Regions from separate parts of the Homo sapiens genome. Here region 1 is linked to region 2. Evidence: fine-mapped expression QTL. A gene starts in region 2. The other region holds a variant in brackets. All regions are shown on one strand. Distances are from middle to middle.

The links. PIP is the estimated chance that this variant, and not a neighbour inherited with it, causes the effect.
Region 1: its variant is fine-mapped to the expression of LGSN in whole blood (TOPMed, PIP above 0.99).

The regions. Positions count from the first base shown.
Region 1 is chr6:63,347,455-63,358,659 of GRCh38, forward strand. It overlaps a transcript of LGSN not described here. Among named protein-coding and RNA genes, the nearest start is that of LGSN, 33 kb to the left of the region's middle. RefSeq lists enhancers at 1-876, 5,149-5,258, 5,329-5,598, 5,699-5,788. The variant G/A (reference allele first, on the strand shown) is at 5,780.
Region 2 is chr6:63,315,277-63,326,481 of GRCh38, forward strand. LGSN (lengsin, lens protein with glutamine synthetase domain) reads right to left here and starts at 4,707. Exons shown (of 4, transcript NM_016571.3): 1 at 4,638-4,707. The coding sequence starts at 4,667.

The sequences.
Region 1 (11,205 bases), 32 kb after region 2:
TATAAGGTCTAATTTACTGTTCAGACATATAATTTCAAGGTCTATGACTTTCCTGCTTCAGTGTCTTTTCTAATCCATCATTATTCCATCAGTTCATTCACTCATTCATTCTTTCATTCATTCATTTGTTTTCCAAGATGGCTTTTTCCAGTATGCTTAAAAGGCTAGAGAGGTCTCTAAGATAAGGAACTGCTTATCTTACAGTGACACATTTCATGAAATAAGATAACTGATGCCAAAGTCTTTTGAAAATTTGGAAAATTACCACGTAAATATCTGTTCCATTCTTATACTCAATTAGTCACTAAGTGAAAACATGTAAGCTGAATCTCACAATGACTAATGTTTCTGCAGCCTGCTTAAATAAGCGGTAACTTATTTAAAAATCCAAAATGCTTGCTAAGTCATATATGACTCATACAGCAGAGTCCATTAGTCAGGAATGACTTGTAGGGAAATATTCCTAATATTAGAAAAAGGTTAATTGTGTGAATAAGAAAATAAGATATAAGATCAAGTCTGCTTCTAGCTCTTGAAAATTTTCTTAAAATTGGAGGAGAAACTCCTTTCTCCAAGTAAGAAAAAAACAAATAAAACCACTGATTTATAACAAAAGAAAGCATAAATAAGCTAGTCATTCAATATTAGCCAAGAGCTGAAGAATATAGTCTAACGTAAATACAGCAGCTCAGGAGACAATGACCTTGAAAACTAGCAGCCACAAAAGAAAGAACAGACTAATATAAAAGTATGGACTGGGAGGCAGAAATGGGCAGATCACCTGAGGTCAGGAGTTCGAGACCAGCCTGGTCAACATGGCAAAACCCCGTCTTTACTAAAAACACAAAAATTAGCTGGGAGCTGTGGCGCATGCCTGTAATCCCAGCTACTCGGGAGGCTGAGGAAGGAGAATTGCTTGAATCCAGGAGGCGGAGGTTTCAGTGAGCCGAGATCACACCACTGCACTCCAGCCTGGGCGACAGAGTTAGACTCTGTCTCAAAAGAAAAAAAAAAATATATGGAAATGTAATTAAGCATTCACAATGCAGGTCTACGAGCTCTTGGTGCGCATGGCATTCTAGTTTCTATTTTGATTTTTTAGTTAACGGCTCAACAAATATTTTGGAACATATCATCTCTACAAGGCACTAGTAGATGTTGAAGAGAGACAACATCTTATTGCACATCTGGCCTACAGTAATCTGTGTTTGGTAGGAGTCATGGAGCATTATTTAGTATCTTAACCCAAAGTAGGATACTAACTACACTAGAAATGAAGATTTTTACTTTTTTTTTTTTTTTTTTTGCTTTTTTAAAATAGAGGTGGGGTCTTGCTGTGTTGCCCGGGCTGGTCTCGAAATCTTGGCCTGAAGCAATCCTCCTGCCTCGCCTTCCTAAAGCACTGAGATTACAGGCATGAGCCACCACACCTGGCCAGAAGTATAGATTTTTAAAACTACGTAGTAAAGGCTTTCAAAGGGGAACAAGTTAATGCAAAGTTCTTTGGAAGAGTTAGCATTGGAATGCAGCCTTCAAGCAATCGAGAATTGTTCCTGTAAAGTTGAAGATAAGGAAAAGGGGGCAGAAGTCAAAGCACTGAGCTTACTGTGCACAGAAAAACAAGGTGAATACTCAATTTAATGATGCATGAAGAAAGGAAGAGAAACAGGAGTCCTTTAGACCTTGATTTTCAAAGAGCTTCTTACATGCCATAGGCTGCCCTCAAACTTTTGGTTGTTTTGTTGTTATTGACTTAAGTAAGATAATAAACTTAATCAGAACTGTGCTTTGGAATGATTCATTAAGAAGCCACTCTGTAATGTAAATTGTGAGAGTATTAAGGCAGAGACTGGAGACTGGGGGCTAAATTAGGAAATATTTGTAGCTGATGAGAAACATGGTTGGTAGAATTCTAAAAAGGCCCCTAAATTCCCAACCCTTGGTGCAAAAACACCTTCTCCTAGGTATTCAATCAAACATTAATCTAGGTGTTGCTGTGAAAAGATTTGTGATGTGGCTATGGCCTCAAATCAGTTAAGGTTGAGAAACATTCTAAGAAAGTCTGACCTAATCACAAACCCTTTAATCTGTGTTTAGAGGTCAGCAACAGGGAAGTTGGAGAGATTCAAACTATGATTGCAATTCGACAAGGGAGAGTTTTTCCACCACGGGCTTTGAAGATGGAGAGGACCACATGGCAAAGAATGCAGATGGCCTCTGGAAGCTGAAAGTGCCCTTGGCCAACAACCAGCAAGGAAACAGGAACCAGAGTCTTACAATAAAAAGGGCTTAAAATAACACAAATTTATGATAGCACAGCTTCTGTAGATGAGATGTACTAACGACGTGATTGAGTTCTGTGCTCAAGTTATCATAAGACTGAAATCAAGGTGTTGGGTAGGCTGAGTCCTTCTACGGAGACTGGGAACAATCCACTTCTCAACGCATTCTGGTGGCATTTAGGGATAAGCTGGTTTATCCAGGCCAGCTTCACAGAAGATGAATATAGTTCCATTTCAGTTATTAGAGACCTACCCAAAGATTTAGAAGAATGTTTGATTATTTGAAAGCATTTTAAAACTATTCATTCAACAAGGAAAAGTTGAAAAAGAGTTCAGTACCTATCATGTAAATTATTAAGGTTGGTGCAGAAGTAATTAGCAAAAACCGCAAATACTTTTGCACCAACCTAATAATTAACTCATGAGGAATGGTAAAAGTGAGTAAGCTTTTTAGTTAAGAAAACTGGATTTATAGAGTTATTCTAGCTGTGTTCTATTCAATTATTACCTTGATTTCTTTCATTCTTTCTTTGGTTATAATATGAAAGCAATTACTATATTAATTATTTCACAGGGTTGTTAGTAGGACCAAATTTATTAAAATATACAAAGGACTTCACAAACTGGAAAATATTTTACAGATTTGTAATTATAATTATTACTGGATCTAGTCATAGTTATTTGTCTGCAAACCATAAATTATCTCAGTGCATTCAAATTAACCTGGTTGTGAAGATTTAAAATTTTTTACTTTATTTCCAGTTTTAATAAACAGCATACTGAAAATAGTGCCACAGGCACATCATAAAACTAACTACAAAGTAAACAGTTCAGGCCAGGGGTGGTGGCTCACGCCTATAATCCCAGCACTTTGGGAGGCCAAGGTGGGTGGATCACCTGAGGTCAGAAGTTCCAGACCAGCCTGGCCAACATGGTGAAACGCTCTCTCTACTAAAAATACAAAAATTAGCTGGACATGGCAGCGCACACCTGTAATCTCAGCTATTCAGGAGGCTGAGGCAAGAGAATCACTTGAACCTGTGGGGCAGAGGTTACGGTGAGCTGAGATGGTGCCACTTCACTCCAGCCTGGGCCACAGAGCCATCTAAAAAAAAAAAAACAAACAAACAAAAACGAGTTCAGACGACCAATTGGTAAGTAAAACAATTGGTTTTTTATCCTAATAAAAAAGAATTTGCCATTCAATCACTAACATCCAAAACTATTTACAGTGCTATATTCTGAATATTTGTGTCTCTTCCACCCAAATTCATATGTGGAAATGTTAACCCCCAAGGTTAACATAAGAGGTGGGTCCTTTGAGAGGCGATTAGGTTATCAGAATGGAACCCTCACAAATGGGATTAGTGTCTTTATAAAAGAGACCCCAGAAAGATCCCTTCCCATTTCTACCATGTGAGGTTACTGTGAGAAAACCCTGTCTGTGAGGAAGCAGACCCTCACCAGACACCAAAGCTACCAGTGTCTTGTTCTGGGACTTCTCAAACTTCAGAACTGTGAGAAATACATTTCTGATATTTATCTGCCACCCAGTTTATGGTGCTTTCTAATAGCAGCCTGAAAAGATTAAGACAAAAGGAAGGAAAAAAAGCAGATATTTGCTTTATAAATATCTCTGTGTGTGTGTGTGTATGTGTGTCTGTGTGTGTCTGTGTGTGTGAGAGAGAGAGAGAGAGGAAGAGAGAGAGAGAGAGAGACAGAGAAAGAGAGACAGAAACAGAGACAGAGTCTCACTCTGCCACCTAGGCTGGAGTGTAGTGGTGCGATTTCAGCTCACTGCAACCTCTGCCTCCCAGGTTCAAGTGATTCTTGTGCCTCAGCTTCAAGCAGCTGGGATTACAGGTGCCCGCCACCATGCCAGGCTAATTTTTTGTATTTTTAGTAGAGACGGGGTCTTCCTATGTTGGCCACTCTGGTCTCGAATTCCTAGCCTCAAGTGAACCACCCACCTCGGCCTCCCAAAGGGCTAAGATTACAGATATGAGCCTCCACACTCAGCCTAAATATCTTAAATATGAATGTCAAAATAAAACTAACAGCAATCTAATGATCTTGACCACTTTGATTTACATGGAGACTAATAATTTTTTAAATGATGTTTCAATGACATATACTGTATAGTCTTTTTAAACCTGAGACTGATTTACTGTTTCAATATATCAGAGAACATTTAAAGAAAATTGTGTCATTGCCTCAGGATTTTCCAATGTATAAAGAAAGAATTTCTTGTAATGACCTCGTAGATATGGTACTTAAGAGTAAGTAACAAATAGACAAATAATTTTAAAACAAGAAATGGTTGAGACAGAAATGACCTTCCTGGAAAATAAATGCAATTAGAAAAAAGACTATTGTTACATGAAATGAATTATATGAAGGATGTTTCTAGGCAAACAGTAGGTGGCAACATCTACACAGACTTGTTTTAGAAATGCTTGTATAACATCAAAACAAAACTTACAAGCTAATGATTCATGAAATAGGGAATTTTCCAAAACTCACATGTTAGTAGAGATATTTATGCGCAAATCCATTGTTTTGTATTCTTTCTATTTTGGAATGTCATGCTTATGCCTTATCACAAGGACTCCACTAAGATCAATAATCTTAAAAATGTTTTGTTTGGCCAGGTGTAGTGACTAACGCCTAGAATCCCAGCACTTTGGGAGGCTGAGGCAGGATTGCTTGAACCAAGAATTTCGGGACCAGCTCTGGCAATATAGAGAGTCTCCATCTCTACAAAAAATACGAAAATTCACCAGGTGTGGTGGTACATGCCTGTGGTCCCAGCTACTTAAGAGGCTGAGGCGGGAAGATTGCTTGAACCTGGGACATCAAGGCTTCACTGAGCCATGATCACACCACCGCACTCCAGTCTGTCTCTCTCTCTCTCTCTTCCTCTCTCTCTCTCTCACACACACACAGACACACACACACACACACACACAGACACACAGTTTTATTTGTGGGTTATGTTAGAGACTGTTCATCTGTCTCTCAAACAAAGGGATAGAATTTTGTTCCCCTCACATTTCTTGGCCAGATTAGGTGGTTGAATTAGATAAGAGTAAGGATTAAGGGAACCATGCAAACAGCTGGATTTTTTTTTAATGCCACAATATGACCTCAATTACTGGAGTTCACAGAAGTTGCAGAAGACACATCCGGTGGTCAAGAAAAGGGGAAGCTGCCTTAAGTTTCCTTTTCTCTTGTGAGCGCAACAACCTCCATCTGTCTTTCTCTGTAACGCTGAAGACAGACACGTGACCCTGGTTCTCACAGAAGAACTTTCAAATCTAAAAAGCCATTTTAGGAAATAATTGGAAAAGTCTCTGTAGCCTTTGAGCTCCAGGATATTTGTTTTCCAGAATGATGAGATTGGTTATTGAATGTTTTAATGGTTGGAAACCAGAGAGTAGCTTTAGAGGCAAGCAGAGGCGCTGCTTTTTAACAGCAGAGGTCAGTAACACCAAAGG[G/A]GAAGGAAATTGAGCAGTCTGGCCAGAAATTGCAGATTTCTGTTGCAGACCCAACAGGCAAGAGGCAATAGGCAACATCCTGAGACACACAGGAAAACCTGATCCTTAGTACCTAACAGGGTCTCCTGTGCAGAAAATGTTCCCATCCCTGGCAACAGTGCCTTCCTGGATATGCTCACAGATGTTTAAGACTCTCCCTACCAGAGAAATAGCTTCTATCACAGAGTATTTTGTAGGGAACCATAACAGAACGTAAGGTGAAGTTTTCTACTATACTCTTATAATTATTGAAATTTTTCCTACTTCATTAATACCTGGACTTAGATTTCTCTTTTAGAAAGAAGCAGTTTGTAGCAAAAAAAAAAAAAAAAAAAGAAAAAATAATGTTTTTCACAGAAATTGAAAAAACAATCTCAAAATTTGCATGAAACCAAAAAAGAGCCTGAGTAGCCAAAGCAGTCCTCAGCAAAAAGAACAAAGCTGCAGACATCACACCACCTGACTTCAAAATATATTACAAGGTTATAGTAACCAAAGCATCATTACAGTGATACAAAAACTGACACATAGACCAATGAAACAGAATAGAGAACCTGGAAATAAGTCTACATATAAGGCAACTGATTTTTTTTATAAAGTTGCCAAGAATATACATTGGGAAAAGGGACACCGTCTTCAATAAATGGTGCTAAGAATACTGGATATTTATACACAGAAGAATGAAACTAGACCCCTATCTCTCACTACATATAAAAATCAACTCAAAACGGATTAGACTTAAACATGAGACCTCAAACTATAAAACTACTAGGGAAAAAACCTAGAGAAAACACTTTAGGGCATTGGTCTAGGCAAAGACTTTATGGCTAAGACCTCAAAAGTACAGGTAACAAAAATAAAAATAGACAATGGTACCATATTAAACTAAAAAGCTTCTGCACAACAAAGAAAACCATCAATATCATGAAAACACAGCCTGCTGAATGGGAGAAAATATTTGCAAACTGCTTGTCTGACAAGGGACTGATATCCAAAATACATAAGGAACTCAAACAGCAAAAAAAATAAATAAATAATCCCTTTAAAAAGTGGGCAAGAGGTCTGAATAACATTTCTTGGACGAAGACACACAAATGGCCAGCAAATACATGAAAAAATGTTCAACGTCACTAATCATCAGGGAAATGTAAATTAAAACCAAAATGAGATACCATCTTACCCCAGTTAGAATAGTTATTATTAAAAAGACAAAAATATAACAGATGCTGGTGAGGATGCAAAGAAAAGGTAACTCTTGTACACTGTTGATGGGAATGTAAATTAGTACAGCCACTATGGAAGCAGTATGGCGATTTCTCAAAAAAACTAAAAATAGAAATACCATATGATCTATCACTACTGGGCAATTATCCAAAGGAAAGGAATCAGTATGTTGAAGAGACATCTGCGCTCACATATTTATTCCAGCACTATTCACAACAGCAAAGACAGAGAATCAACCTGTGTTCATCAACAGATGATTAAAGAAAATATGATACATATACACAATGGAATACTATTTAGCCATAAAAAAGAATGAGATAATACCATTTGCAGCAACATTGATGGAAGTGGAGATCATTATGTTAAGTGAAATAATCCAGACCCAGAAAAACAAATATTGCATGTTCTCACTCATATATGGGAGAAAAAAAAAAAGTTGATCTCTTGGATGTACAGAGTAAAATGACAATTACTAACGACTAGGAAGGGTATGGGTGTGGGTGTGGGTGTAGGGGAGGAAAAAGAAAGAATAGTTTCTAAAGTTCCATAGCAAAGAAGGGTGACTACAGTAAACAACAATGTATTGTATAGTTCAAAATAGCTACACAGAGGACTTGAAATGTTCCCAACACATAAAAATGATAAATGGAAAAGGTGATGTGTATCCTAAATACCCTGACTTGATGGTTACACATTCTATGCATATAACAAAATATCACATGTACCCTACAAATACATACAAATATTATGTATCAATTTAAAAAAAAATGAAAAATAAAATATCCCTACATTCTCTTGGCAAATATGTATTGAGTGCTGGGCACTGTTCTAAGTACTTGGGGCACAAAAGTGAAGAAAATGTACTTTGTCTCTTTCCTCATGGTAATTAGTCTAGTAGAGGCAGGCAGAAATTGAACAACAAAAAGAGTACATCCTATGCCAGGTGGTGTATTCATTTCTTTGGGCTGCCATAACCAAGTACTGTAAACTGGGTAACTTAAAACAACAGAAATTTATTGTGTCATTAATTCTTATGGCTGGAAGTTCAATCAAAGTGTCCACAGAGCCATGCTGTCTCTGAAACCTGGAGGAAAATCTTTCCTGGCCTTTCTCTCGCTTCTAGTCGTTTGCTGGCAATCTTTGGCATTCCTTGGCTTGTAGATGCATCACTCCAGTACTCTGTCTTTTTGTTTTGTTTTGAGACGGAGTTTCACTCTTGATGCACAGGCTGTTGTGCAATGGTGCAATCTTGGCTCACCACAACCTCTGCCTCCCAGGTACAAGCAATTCTCCTGTCTCAGCCTTCCAAGTAGCTTGGATTACAACATGTGCCACCATGCCTGGCTAATATTTTTTGTATTTAGTGGAGACGGGGTTTCACCATGTTACTCATGCTGGTTGTGAACTCCTGACCTCAGGTGACCCACCCACCTTGACCTTCCAATGTGCTGGTATTACAGGCGTGAGCCACTGGACCTCGCCAGTACTCTGTCTTCACATGGTGTTATTCCTGTATCTGTTCACATATTCTTCCTTCTACGCACATCTATATATATATGTCCAAATTTCCCCTTTTTATAAGGACACCGGTTATATTGCACTAGGGCCCACCCTAATAATCTCATCTTGACTACATCTGCAAACACTGTATTTAAAAATAAGATCACATTCTGAGATCCTGAAGGTTAGGACTTCAAGTTATCGTTTTGGGGAAAAACAATTCAACTCATAGTCCACATTTAAAAAAATAATAATAAAGCAGGCCAGGCACAGTGGCTCATGCCTATAATCCCAGCACTTTGGGAGGCTAAGGCAGGAAGATCACGTGAAGTCAGGAGTTCGAGACCAGCCTGAACAACATGATGAAACCCCATCTCTACTAAAAAAATACAAAAATTAGCTGGGTGTGGTGGCTCGTGCCTGTGATCCCAGCTACTCGGGAGGCTGAGGTGGGAGAATCGCTTGAACCTGAGAGGCAGAGGTTGCAGTGAGCTGATATCATGCCACTGCACTCCACCCTGGGCGACAAGAGCAAAACTCTGTCTCAAAAAGTTAAAAAATAAGAAAAATAAAAATAAAGCAGAGTAAAAGAAATAAAAGTAACAGTCAAGAGATGAGGCATGTTTAGGTAAGGTAGTCAAAGATGTGACATTTGGATAGAGAAGGTAAGATGTGAACAGACACTGAGGAATTGTGCCATGCATATACCTAGGAGAAGAGATATCTTCTCCTGAAAATATAGGATGTTAAGTGCCAAAACTGCAACATGACCAATTGTCTTCCAATCTTTAAAGCATCTTTATGGTTACAAAGAAATGTAAGTTAAAATCACAACCCCCAATTTTTTTTTATACTTTAAGTTTTAGGGTACATGTACACAACGTGCAGGTTTGTTACATATATATACATGTGCCATGTTGGTATGCTGCACCCATTAACTCGTCATTTAACATTAGTTATATCTCCTAATGCCATCCCTCCCCCCTCCCCCCACCCCACAACAGGCCCCGGTGTGTGATGTTCCCCTTCCCGTGTCCATGTGTTCTCATTGTTCAATTCCCACCTATGAGTGAGAACATGCGGTGTTTGGTTTTTTGTCCTTGCGATAGTTTGCTGAGAATGCTGGTTTCCAGCTTCATCCATATCCCTGCAAAGGACATGAACTCATCATTTTTTTATGGCTGCATAGTATTCCATGGTGTATATGTGCCACATTTTCTTAATCCACTCTATCATTGTTGGACATTTGGGCTGGTTCCAAGACTTTGCTATTGTGAATACTGCCTCAGTGAACATATGTGTGCATGTGTCTTTATAGCAGCATGATTTATAATCCTTTGGGTGTATACCCAGTAATGGGATGGCTGGGTCAAATGGTATTTCTAGTTCTAGATCCCTGAAGAATTGCCACACTGACTTCCACAATGTTCGAAGTAGTTTACAGTCCCACCAACAGTGTAAAGTGTTCCTATTTCTCCACATCCTCTCCAGCACCTGTTGTTTCCTGACTTTTTAATGATCGCCATTCTAACTAGTGTGAGATGGTATCTCATTGTGGTTTTTATTTGCATTTCTCTGATGGCCACTGATGATGAACATTTTTTCATGTGTCTTTTGGCTGCATAAATGTCTTCTTTTGAGAAGTGTCTATTCATATCCTTTGCCCACTTGTTGATGGGGTTGTTTGTTTTTTTCTTGTAAATTTGTTTGAGTTCATTGTAGATTCTGGATATTAGCCCTTTGTCAGATAAGTAGGTTGCGAAAATTTTCTCCCATACTGTAGGTTGCCTGTTCACTCTGATGGTAGTTTCTTTTGCTGTGCAGAAGCTCTTTAGTTTAATTAGATCCCATTTGTTAATTTTGGCTTTTGTTGCCATTGCTTTTGGTGTTTTAGACATGAAGTCCTTGCCCATGCCTATGTCCTGAATGGTAATGCCTAGGTTTTCTTCTAGGGTTTTTATGGTTTTAGGTCTAACATTTAAGTCTTTAATCCATCTTGAATTAATTTTTGTATAAGGTGTAAGGAAGGGATCCAGTTTCAGCTTTCTACATATGGCTAGCCAGTTCTCCCAGCACCATTTATTAAATAGGGAATCCTTTCCCCATTGCTTGTTTTTGTCAGGTTCGTCAAAGATCAGATAGTTGTAGATATGTGGCATTATTTCTGAGGGCTCTGTTCTGTTCCATTGGTCCATATCTATGTTTTGCTACCAGTACCATGCTGTTTTGGTTACTGTAGCCTTGTAGTATAGTTTGAAGTCAGGTAGCATGATGCCTCCAGCTTTGTTCTTTTGGCTTAGGATTGTCTTGGCAATGTGGGCTCTTTTTTGGTTCCATATGAACTTTAAAGTAGTTTTTCCAATTCTGTGAAGAAAGTCATTGGTAGCTTGATGGGGATGGCATTGAATCTATAAATTACCTTGGGCAGTATGGCCATTTTCACAATATTGATTCTTCCTACCCATGAGCATGGAATGTTCTTCCATTTGTTTGTATCCTCTTTTATGTCATTGAGCAGTGGTTTGTAGTTCTCCTTGAAGAGGTCCTTCACATCCCTTGTAAGTTGGATTCCTAGGTATTTTATTCTCTTTGAAGCAATTGTGAATGGGAGTTCACTCATGATTTGGCTTTCTGTTTGTCTGTTATTGGTGTATAAGAATGCT
Region 2 (11,205 bases):
CTTTGGATGTCAGCAAGACCTGATGGTAACCCACTAGGATGATTCAGTCAAAACAGCTTTCCTAGATAAAATATGGCATGGACTTCTTCAAAGTTTTCTCTAGAAGGGCTTAGACCTGTGCTTCTTTACTTAGATGGGCTTGTGCTAGTGAAAGCCTGCTCTACAATGCCTCTGTAGCTTTACTCTATAAATTTTACCTTTTCTTTAGGGTTTTTTCACAGTAGTTACCCTCAATATCAGGCCTTTTCACCACGGTTATGATTACCCCACTTAAGATACTGAGAAAACATTATTTCTCTTGCTTTTCTGAAGAATAGCTAAAATGTTCTCTCTCTCTCTCTCTGTGTGTGTGTGTGTGTGTGTGTGTGTGTGTGTGTGTATGCATGCTCTCACTCTCTATATATCTATATAAATATATAGATATATATTTCAGTGAGGCAACTGAGGATCTGATAAATGCAGCAACTTGACTGGCTTCATAGCTAGAACATAGCAGAATTCAAATATGTGTGGTTTACAACTCTTATTTCATCTCTTCATGCTACTTACAAACTTTATATGTGACAAAATACAGAAAACTAAGGAAATCCAGGTCTTAAAAAAAAAAAAAACTCCACATTTCAAGTGAGAGTTCAATAGTATCTCTATCTTTTGAAGTAAAACAAAGCACAGAAGGAAAATCCAGATAAATTGCTTGGAATTTGCAATGAATCAGAATTTTACTTAATATAATAAGCCCAAAATGGAATGGGTTATTTGTCAAAGTGTTGAGTTTCTCATCTCCAAGCACATTTGTGGGGAGATTAGCCAAATGTCAGGGTCAACCTGGTTAATTTCCACTTCTACAATCAAATTTTCACTTTCTAACTGTTTAATCCTCACCACTTTTACAAGATAATAACCTAGACCTAAGTTGGCAGATTAGGTGGAACATTCATATGTGACCGAGAATGATAGAGCAACGATCATTACTGAGAGCTCTGTGTGAAAGAAGTATCAGAATGTAAATGATATAGCTGCTCCCATATGAAAAGCTATGAGTCTCGTTTTTATTTCTAACAAATTGGCTAATAGTCAACAGTGTGTATCAACCCATAAACAAATCTCACCTCTGTGGGCAAGTTATGCAAAATCTACAATAGAAGTTCTACACAAGAAAAATATACCTAACCAAACATTTTCAGAGAAGGAAAAACATAATTTTACAAAGGTCTAACACCATGTGATTTTGATAATATGAAGCTAAATAATAAAGAACACTAAAATAATAAAGGAAGCAAAAAGTTTTGTTTTATTTAGTATGTTCATAATTAAATCAAAGAAGAATTCTCCATATTTTTTAGAGAAATTAAGATCGTATGGCTAAAAATATATTTATCCATGTAGACAGGACAAAAATAATTTGTGAAGGCTTTGTGGGTGAGCAGAAAAGCAACAAAAATATTTCAAAGGTAAAAAGACATGTAGAAAAAATTTAAATATTCATGTATATATAATATATATTTATGATAATGGGCTCTGTAATATAGTATGAAAAAAGATCCAAGAATGTTATGGAACTGTTCGTGAAGATATCAGCTAATGGGCTGCTGCAGCATATAAAAATACTGCAAATATGAATATAAAAATACTTTAAATGTGAGAGGGGAAGGTGCTCTACCCTTTAAAAAAATTATGATATGCCTGTAACTGATTGCTAAAAATAGTTCTAGTCATTGTGCCTTAGGAAAGCCTTAATAGGCTAGAAGTGGATGGATATATGTTTATGTAAAAAGGTATATTATATATAATTGTTATCATTACTATCATAAGCAAACAAATTCTATCATGTAAAGGAAAACATGTAAAACTCTTTAAGGCTGTAAAAATGAAAACAGGAGAGCTATTAGAGGTCAACATAACATAATAAAGTATATGTAATGAATGACTCCTTTTTAATGAGTTCTCACTATATTGTAAGCACAGTTCTAAGCACTTTACATGTATTAACTCATTTAATCTCCACAAAATCCCTTCCTGTAGGCACTATTAATGTCCCAGTGAGGTACAGAGAAGTCCAATACTTTGCCCCATGTCACACAGCTAGTAAGTAGCAGAGCCAAGATTAAAATGCAGGCATTCTCATTTCAGGAAGTGCGAGCTTAATCCACTGCCCTTGAAACTCAAATCTAATTTTTGTCTTGTCTCTCCACTGAGAATTCTTAAATGGAGAGCTAGTTGATACACTGGAAGTAGGTAAGTTTGAGGTAAATAATTATAAAATGAACTATAAACCTTGAAATCTTCAGAAGACAAATCTTCTGAATTCTCAGAGACAAAACAAATGGAAAATACAAAACAAGAATCAGGAGGTCTCTAGAGTCACACAGACAATAGCATAAAGCAGGGAAAGCTGGGGTAGGTAAATCTCTAGCCTCTTGAAGCAAGCCTCTAGAAGGTCAGGTAGAGCCTCCCATGGGGCTGCACTTCATGCCCCCAACAGATACAGGCTGCAGAGCAGGATGAGTCTCTGACTTCACCCCAGATGGCATTCATTCCTTCTGTGATATGGAAACGTCAGAACTGTGTCTACCTGTGTCAGTGTTCTCTGTATTGAGTTATAAATATCTGCAGGGTGGGGAACAGATCTTACTCACTTGACATATTACCCAGCTCAGCACCACACACAAGGTTCTTGATAAACAGATTTTAATTGTTATGATATGCCACTCTTTCACTCAATTTCACAATTTCATACACCCATAGGATCTACTTTAAGAAGTAAGAATGTGTTTTCAATCTATTTTTTGTCTGCCACTGCTAAGAATGTAGCTGAATGCATGACTTTACAGCATTGTTTTAAATAGAGAATCTCAGTAAAATATTCTTTAGGGGAGTACCAAACCTAAGATTAATAACTGTTCATTTTACTGAATATTCTGACAAAGAATTTCTTCAGACTGGGGAAGTAAGTATTCTGAGGGATTTTCTCCATATACACAATCTGCCCTTCGGAATCCACTGAGCTTTTGTTCAGCTGCTGTGTTTTGTAGTTAACTTCATGCTGCTCTTGCTCACATTACCAGAGCATCTAGCATGAAACACAGTCTTGTCCTTTTCCAAACATCTGTTAGCTGGAAAAGGAATGTCACATGTCATCTCTCTCCCTCCTTCCATATTCTTTCACTTCCTGAGAATGCGAACCTATACAGGAGAGTATAAAAGAGCTTATTCAGTGGAGTTGGGTCAAGTGGCCAGCCAAGATTCACCTTTATTACATCTAGTAAATACAATGCTCTATTCCAACTTTGAGGGAACTTTTCCTCAAAAGACAGAGAATGTCTCTTGCTGTGAGAATTGTGCAGTTTAAAAATCATATTGTTCATTTTTCTGCTCTCCTAAGAGTAAACAATCAACATTTGGTCTAGACTGGTCTTGAGGAGGGCATGGCTTTTAAGGACTTTCATGGGAGCTGTATCACCTGGAATCCTGGACTAAAATTGTGGGAGCTGGGGAAGAAAGCAGAGTTCTGCCATGGGATCAGAAGTAGTAAGTAAAACTAGTCCAAGAAGTTACATAGTTAGAAATCAAAATCCCAAAAAGCTAATGATGTATATGCTAATTACCTTTACTTTCTTTCTATAAGCCTTCCTTTGCAGCTATGAATTTACTTTTAGCTAAATTCATTATAATCACATAAACATGTCCACCATTTGATGCCTACAACAGTGACATGACAGTACAGGATAAGCCACAGCTCCTCCTCAGGGAGTGCCTTCTTCACATAGCCTTGCCCAGTTTCCCTTAGGGAAAGTGCATTTGTTCTTGACTCTATTTCAAAACAACTGCTTGTATTCACTATACAGATCAGTGAACCCATTCTTAGATGTTAGCTATCTTCTCCACTACATGCAAAAGTGGGGACCAGGTTTGTTCTCTATATGCCACTATTTCATACATAATGCACTGGTCTTCCACTGCACTCTTCACATAGTAGGTATGCTTCTTGCATTATATTTTCTTAACCTACTAAAGATAACTCACATCCTCCCAAATTTTACCACAGCTTGCCTCCAAGTCTGCACTTCAGTCTTTCAGAATGGTCAGTCAGAAATACAAGAGTGAAGGTTGGGTACACACACATTAAGAAGTGAGGAGAAATGTTATATGTTGACAACTGATTATTTTAATATATGCTAGACCCTATAAGTGGCTATCATTATTCATGCTGTGCATTTCAAATATAATTTGAAAACAGGTTTCCACCTTTAGTCATTTAATCTCAAAGCATATTTATTAGAAAGAGGCCAAAGCTTTGAGAAAAACAAAGATTATTCTCTCAATAACAACCAAAATAGAAATAAATTTTTTTATAGCATACTTATGCTTCTGAAACTCAGTGCCTATTGAACTTAAATGATTATTCAAACCAAATGAGCTTTCCTAGATGAATATTTTGAATTGTTTAGTTTTTATTATCTTTATAAATTCACTGTGTAGTACAGAAGGGCAATTCTTCATAAACTTCTCCTGAGTGGACATATAACAAGTATAATTATGCTGCCCTTATTCTTACTGGCATTCAAATAATTGACATTTTTTAAAAAGATTTACTGTCAATATTTTGGTTAAAAACATTTTAATGATTAGCTTCATACCTCCTGCAGAAGGTCCTCTTCATTATTCATCTCAACACTTTTTAAGTTCAGCGTTAGAAACCACAATATCCTCAACAAATGCATTCAACATGTATTTATATGTGTACCTACAACAAAGACTGCAGATGATGAATTCCATAGAGGCTTTTCCAGAGGGGTCTGGCAGGTAATAAAAGATAAACATCAGATTCTGATGTGTCATGCCCAAGGCACAGTATGCTGGAAATGCACTAGAAGAATCGAATGACAAATGCTTGTTTACGCCTGACTCCCTGCAAACAAAAGACATACAAAGCTTAAAATTGTGTTGGTTGATTTTTTTCTCCAACATACAGAATTTTTGTTACATAACAATTGTATTCTGGAATGATATCTATTGTCAGATTCAGATGATGAAACACTTATTAGACGACTATGCTATCAAAGCCCACAGACAAAAGCACAGATGGAAAAATACAGCTATAAGTGACCCAGATTTTTACCAATGGCAAAGATCCACTCATTTGTAATTCTCATTTTTATTTTCTTTTCTAGGTCCCTCTGGCCTCCAAATTAATTCTGGACCTTCATTATAAAACTGAAATATCTTTCTTTAGCTTTTCCAATTCTCCGATGTCAGTCTGTGACAAATCCCAGACCATCCCCACTGTGCACAATGAACACAGAATCATCTACAGGCTGCCCCATATGGTCCCATAAACAATCCTAACTCAGTAGAGGAAATAGGGAATGCTTTCTCTTCACTAGTAAAGGGGGTTTGAAATCACACTTCTGCTGCTATCAACTCAACTTCAAGTATTGTTGATGAAGGAGGATATGCAGTTTCTTCTGAACCAAACCAAATTCTCTCTAAGCATTTTCCATGTGGAAGTGTATAGTCTCCATGGCTAATCACTTCTTCCTGGTCTTCTGGGCCTGAGGAAGACCAAGCCAATACTTACAACCACTCAATCCTGCCTGACTCTCTTGGCCCATTTCAAAAGCCCCATTTCCTAAAGACAGTGATTAACTATTCCTATTTCCATTCCATTGGTACTTGTTCCATGACTGACTCTAAAGCTTCTGCTCTGTGTAGCCTGATCTACAACCAGATCTTGAATTTGGACCTAGTTCTGATGCTGATGCCAGCCTGAAACTGCATCCTGAATATGGCTGTTTTGGACTCTTGAACCTCCCCAAGAAAAGGGATTCTATCTCCTATCCTAGTATTTGACTTGCTCTTGGTGCTTTCCCCCAGATCTCTAGTAGGGTGTTTAATTCCCACAATGTCTTGTACCAGAGCCTTACCTAAGTTTTTCTCAATCCTCTTCTGAGACCACATTTGCTTCCACTTTTACAACTTTTTCTTGCATGTGCTTGTCTCCATGCAAAACAGGTGCCATTGAGCTATGGAAAAAAATGTTTTGTGAAAAATTTCGTTTTTGTTTCAGAAATGTTCCCTTTCCTATATCAAAGAAAAGAACTCCAAGCTGGTTTACATGTTCAGTTACATATTGGGACATGTTTTAAAAAAATCATTCCTTTATAGTACTACTTACCCAAATTTTCTCCTGGGAGTTTTATTGTTATTGAATATGCAATTTGATTCATTTCATCTTCTTTTCCTTACCTTATTTTGACAATCTCTTCTTCTCAATGTGTATCCATGATTTTTTTATAATATCCTTTCCTGAACCTTGATTTGCCCATTTTTGTAAAAAGTGTTCTAAAGCTTGGTTGGACATATGGTGTATAACCTAATTTATGGTATTAGCATGATACATATTTTAAAAGTATTACCATTATTTAGAATCAGTTTTTCCAAAGGAAAAACCAAATGTCAGTAAAGGGCTTAACAAATAGATTAGAAAAATAATAAATGGTCAATAAGTCCATATTAAACACTTTCATTCACAAGCATTTGTTCAATCTGTACTATATCCAGAAAGCTATCTTAGTCAAAATGAATATAGTCATTGAGCCATGAATGTAAATGATACAAGTCTTTCTCTTACCACTCTTCTGAGACAACATATGGAAAGACCGTTCAACTCAAGTACTTCTCCTGCCAAAAAGTTGTAATCTAATTGAATGGATCCAGAGAAGAGTAACTAAAATGATTAAAGGAATTATGGGATTCATTTCATGAGAACAGATTGCAGAAGCTAAAGCTTACTAAGTACCAACAAGGGGAAACAATATGTTGTTTACCACTAAGTTACTGCCTTCTGATGAATTATTGAACAGGATTGGAAGAGCAAAGGATGCAAATTAGGTAAAGGATTAAATCTATTCTTTCACTGTGGGAGAAAATGAAATCACAATGAATCTGTTTTTGTTTCATGTTTACATATATTATATGTTACAGTACAGTGTATAAAATACAAAGTTCTTGTCTTCCCAGCACTAACTGATAAGGAAATAGGGTGAAAACATGCCCAATGAGACCAAGGGAATAACTGACTTGTGAGAATAATAGCCAAGTTCAGTGAAGGAAATAATCTTTCTTATGACCTTCATGAATCACAAAAATATGGTTTCAGGTCAGCATAAGAACATAACAACCACGACAGAAGGATACTTCCACCCTACCTTTCTCCCGATTTGTTGTTGTTCTAGAAGCTGCATGGGTTTGTTCCTCCTTTATATGCATCTAATTATGACATACCTAACAGGAAGACTACATTGACACCCTTTATTGAAGATAACATCATACAAAAATTATAAGGAGTAATATTTGAGCTTCCCTAGTGGTTCTAGAACTCCTGTTCACAAAGGCCCCCAAAAGTTCCTTTCATGAATCCAGTCCCCATTTCTTTTCAGTTCTTCCCAGAAATACCTCATTTTCTAAGAAAATGGTAGATCTGTTTACAGAATTAAGATTTAAAACCGATGATTAAAAAATATTGGAGTGAGGACAGGTAGAAAATCAGTGAATTCAGGGCTGAGCGGAAACACACATTGGCAGGGAAACTGAAGAATATTTTTGTGTGTCCTTTTCATTTGTTTCAGAAAGGGAATTTCTCCTCTCATCTGCCCCTTCGATAAACCTAAGTAAGCAATGAGTAGAAAACAGCGTAACTCCCTGAAAAAAATTATTTTGTAAAGTTGATACAATTTAAAACTAGTTTAAAATCATTTTAATTTAGCATTTTCAATGATTTTCACATATCCTTAAGCATTTATATATTTAGCACAAGCTTCATAAAGTTAAATGAAGTCAGTTGTGAAAGTGGAAGCATGAAATTCTGAATTCCAAGGCACATAAGGAGCTTGCAATCACATATAATAAGTTAAAAATTATTCCAAAACAGCCCAAGCTATTTTTAGAAGGAGAGTGCCACAGAATACATTTCTTTTTATTTGTAAGATTTATGGAGTCCAGGTGCAGTTTTGTTACATGAATATAGTGCATAGTGGTGAAGTCTTGGCTTTTAGTGTAGCCATCACCGGAATAGTATACATTGTACCTGTTAAGTAATTTCTCATCACTCATCCCACTCCACCCTTTTGAGTCTCTACTGTCTATTCACAGAAGACATTTTTATAACACCATTAATTTTAAAAAATTGGTAGCTGGTGTTGTCCTTGTTTCCTTCTTTTAATGGCATCATTCTACTTATTGTGATAATATCTACAAATTCTTGAGAGCACCAAAACCTCATATACACACACACACACACACACACACACACACACACACACACACACACAGGTTATGTTAATCAATATTAGCATATTTAAAAATATAATAATAATGGGCATTGTACATATTAACATAAATAGCATTTTTTATAGAAAATTGATTTCTTATTTTCACAAATTGCTCTAATGTCTAGCTTAAGAGAAAAACCACTGGAATCTCGTATGTTTTTGCATTCTTTTTTTTTTTTTTTTTGAAACACAGTCTGCTCTGTCACCCAGACTGGAGTGCAGTGGTGCGATCTGGGCTCACTGCAACCTCCGCCTCCCGGGTTCAAGCAATTCTCCTGCCTCAGCCTCCCAGATAGCTGGGATTACAGGCACCCGCCACCACACCTGGATAACTTTTAGTATTTTTAGTAGAGACAGGGTTTCGCCATGTTGGCCAGGCTGGTCTGGAACTCCTGACCTCAGGTGATCCACCTGCCTCAGCCTCCCAAAGTGCTGGATGACAGGCGTGAGCCACCGCTTCCGGCTTGCATTTATTCTTTTGATACAGCCCATGTCATGCAACCTCTGGAAAACTTCACTATACACTAATGCTAGATGAGAATGAAAAGGCAAATAGAGTCTTACCATTACTGTGAAAATAATTTTGACCTCACAGTCTCCTCAAAGGTTCTTGGAATCCCTAGGGGTCCCTGAACCATACTTTCAGAACTGCTGCTGTAGTGAAACAACCAGCAGATTAAAGACTTGAGTTCTATAGGAAACACTGTTTTTTAAAGACATATCACATAGTTTTCTTGATAACAGTTTCCTTTTGTGCAAAATGTGGTTTAGGGCAAGATGATCTCAGGTTTCTCTTAACTCTGTTCTGTGATTGTGTAAGATATTAAATGAATTTTATAAAACAACTGAGAATACACATTGTCTTCATGAGCACATGGAATATTCTCCAGGACAGACTATATGTTAGGACACAAAACAAGTCTAAACAAACTTTTAAAAATTAAAATTATATCAAGTGTTTTATCAGACTCCAATTAAATAAAACTAAAAATCAACATCAAGAGGAACTTTGGAAACTCTACAAATACATGCAAATTAAACAACATGCTCCTGAATGGTCACTGGGTCAATGAAGAAATTGAGAAGAAAATAAAAAAAAATTTTTTGGAAACAAATGAAAATAGAAAAACTACATACCAAAATGTGTGGGGTACAGCAAAAGCTCTGCTAAGAGGGAAGTTGATAGCAATAAACACCTACATAAAAAAAAAAAACAGGAGGCTGCACATGGTGGCTCATGCCTGTAATCCCAGCACTCTGGGAGGCCGAGGCGGTCACATCACAAATTCAGGAGATCAAGACTATCCTGGCCAACATGGTGAAACCCCGTCCCTACTAAAAACACAAAAATTAGCTGGGCGTGGTTGAGCGCCTATAGTTCCAGCTACTCAGGGGACTCAGGCAGGAGGATCTCTTGAACCTGGGAGGCAGAGGTTGCAGTGAGCTGAGATCACACCACTGCACTCCAGCCTAGAAGACTGAGTGAAACTCTGTCTCAAAAAAAAAAAAAAAAAAAAGGAGAAAATTTTCAAATATATAATCTAATGATGCACCTTAAGGAACTTGATTAAAAAACACAAAACAAACAAACAAAAAGAACAAACCAAACCCAAAACTAGTGCAAGGAAAGAAATAATAAATATCAGAGCAGAACTCAATGAGATAGAAACTAATAAAATAATACAAAGGTTCAACCAAACACATTGGTTCTTTGAAAAGATAAACAACATTAATAAATCCCTAGCTAGACTAACCAGGAAGAGAGAAGATCCAAATAAGCAAAATTAGAAATGGAAAAGGAGACATAACTGATATCACAGAAATACAAAAGATCATCAGAGACTGTTATAAACAATTATACACTAACAAACTGGAAAATCTAGAGGAAAAGGAGAAATTCCTAGAAACATAGAACCTACCAAGATTGAATAAGGAATAAATAGAAAACCTGAACAAACCAATAATGAGTAGCAAGGTAGAATCAGTAATAATGTGTCCGGAATTGGTGGGTTCTGGGTCTCACTGACTTCAAAAATGAAGCCGCAGACCCTCACGGTGAGTGTTACAGCTTTTAAGGTGGCGCATCTGGAGTTTGTTCCTTCTGATGTTCAGATGTGTTCGGAGTTTCTTCCTTCTGGTGGGTTCGTGGTCTCGCTGGCTTCAGGAGTGAAGCTTCAGACCTTTGCGGTGAGTTTTACAGCTCATAAAAGCAGTGTGGACCCAAAGAGTGAGCAGTAGCAAGATTTATTGCAAAGAGCGAAAGAACAAAGCTTCCACAGTGTGGAAGGGGACCCGAGTGGGTTGCCACTGCTGGCTTGGGCAGCCTGCTTTTATTCTCTTATCTGGCCCCACCCACATCCCGCTGATTGGTAGAGCCGAGTGGTCTGTTTTGACAGGGCACTGATTGGTGGGTTTACAATCCCTACAATCCCTGAGCTCGACACAAAGGTTCTCCACGTCCCCACCAGATTAGCTAGATACAGAGTGTCCACACAAAGGTTCTCCAAGGCCCCACCAGAGTAGCTAGATACAGAGTGTCGATTGGTGCGTTCACAAACCCTGAGCTAGACACAAGGTGCTGATTGGTGTGTTACAAACCTTGAGCTAGATACAGTGCCGACTGGTATATTTACAATCCCTGAGCTAGATACAAGGTGCTGATTGGTGTGTTTACAAACCTTGAGCTAGATACAGAGTGCCGATTGGTATATTTACAATCCCTGAGCTAGACATAAAGGTTCTCCACATCCCCACCAGACTCAGAAGCCCAGCTGGCTTCACCCAGTGGATTCTGCACCAGGGCTGCAGATGGAGCTGCCTGCCAGTCCCGTGCCATGCACCTGCACTCCTCAGCCCTTGGGTGGTCGATGGGACT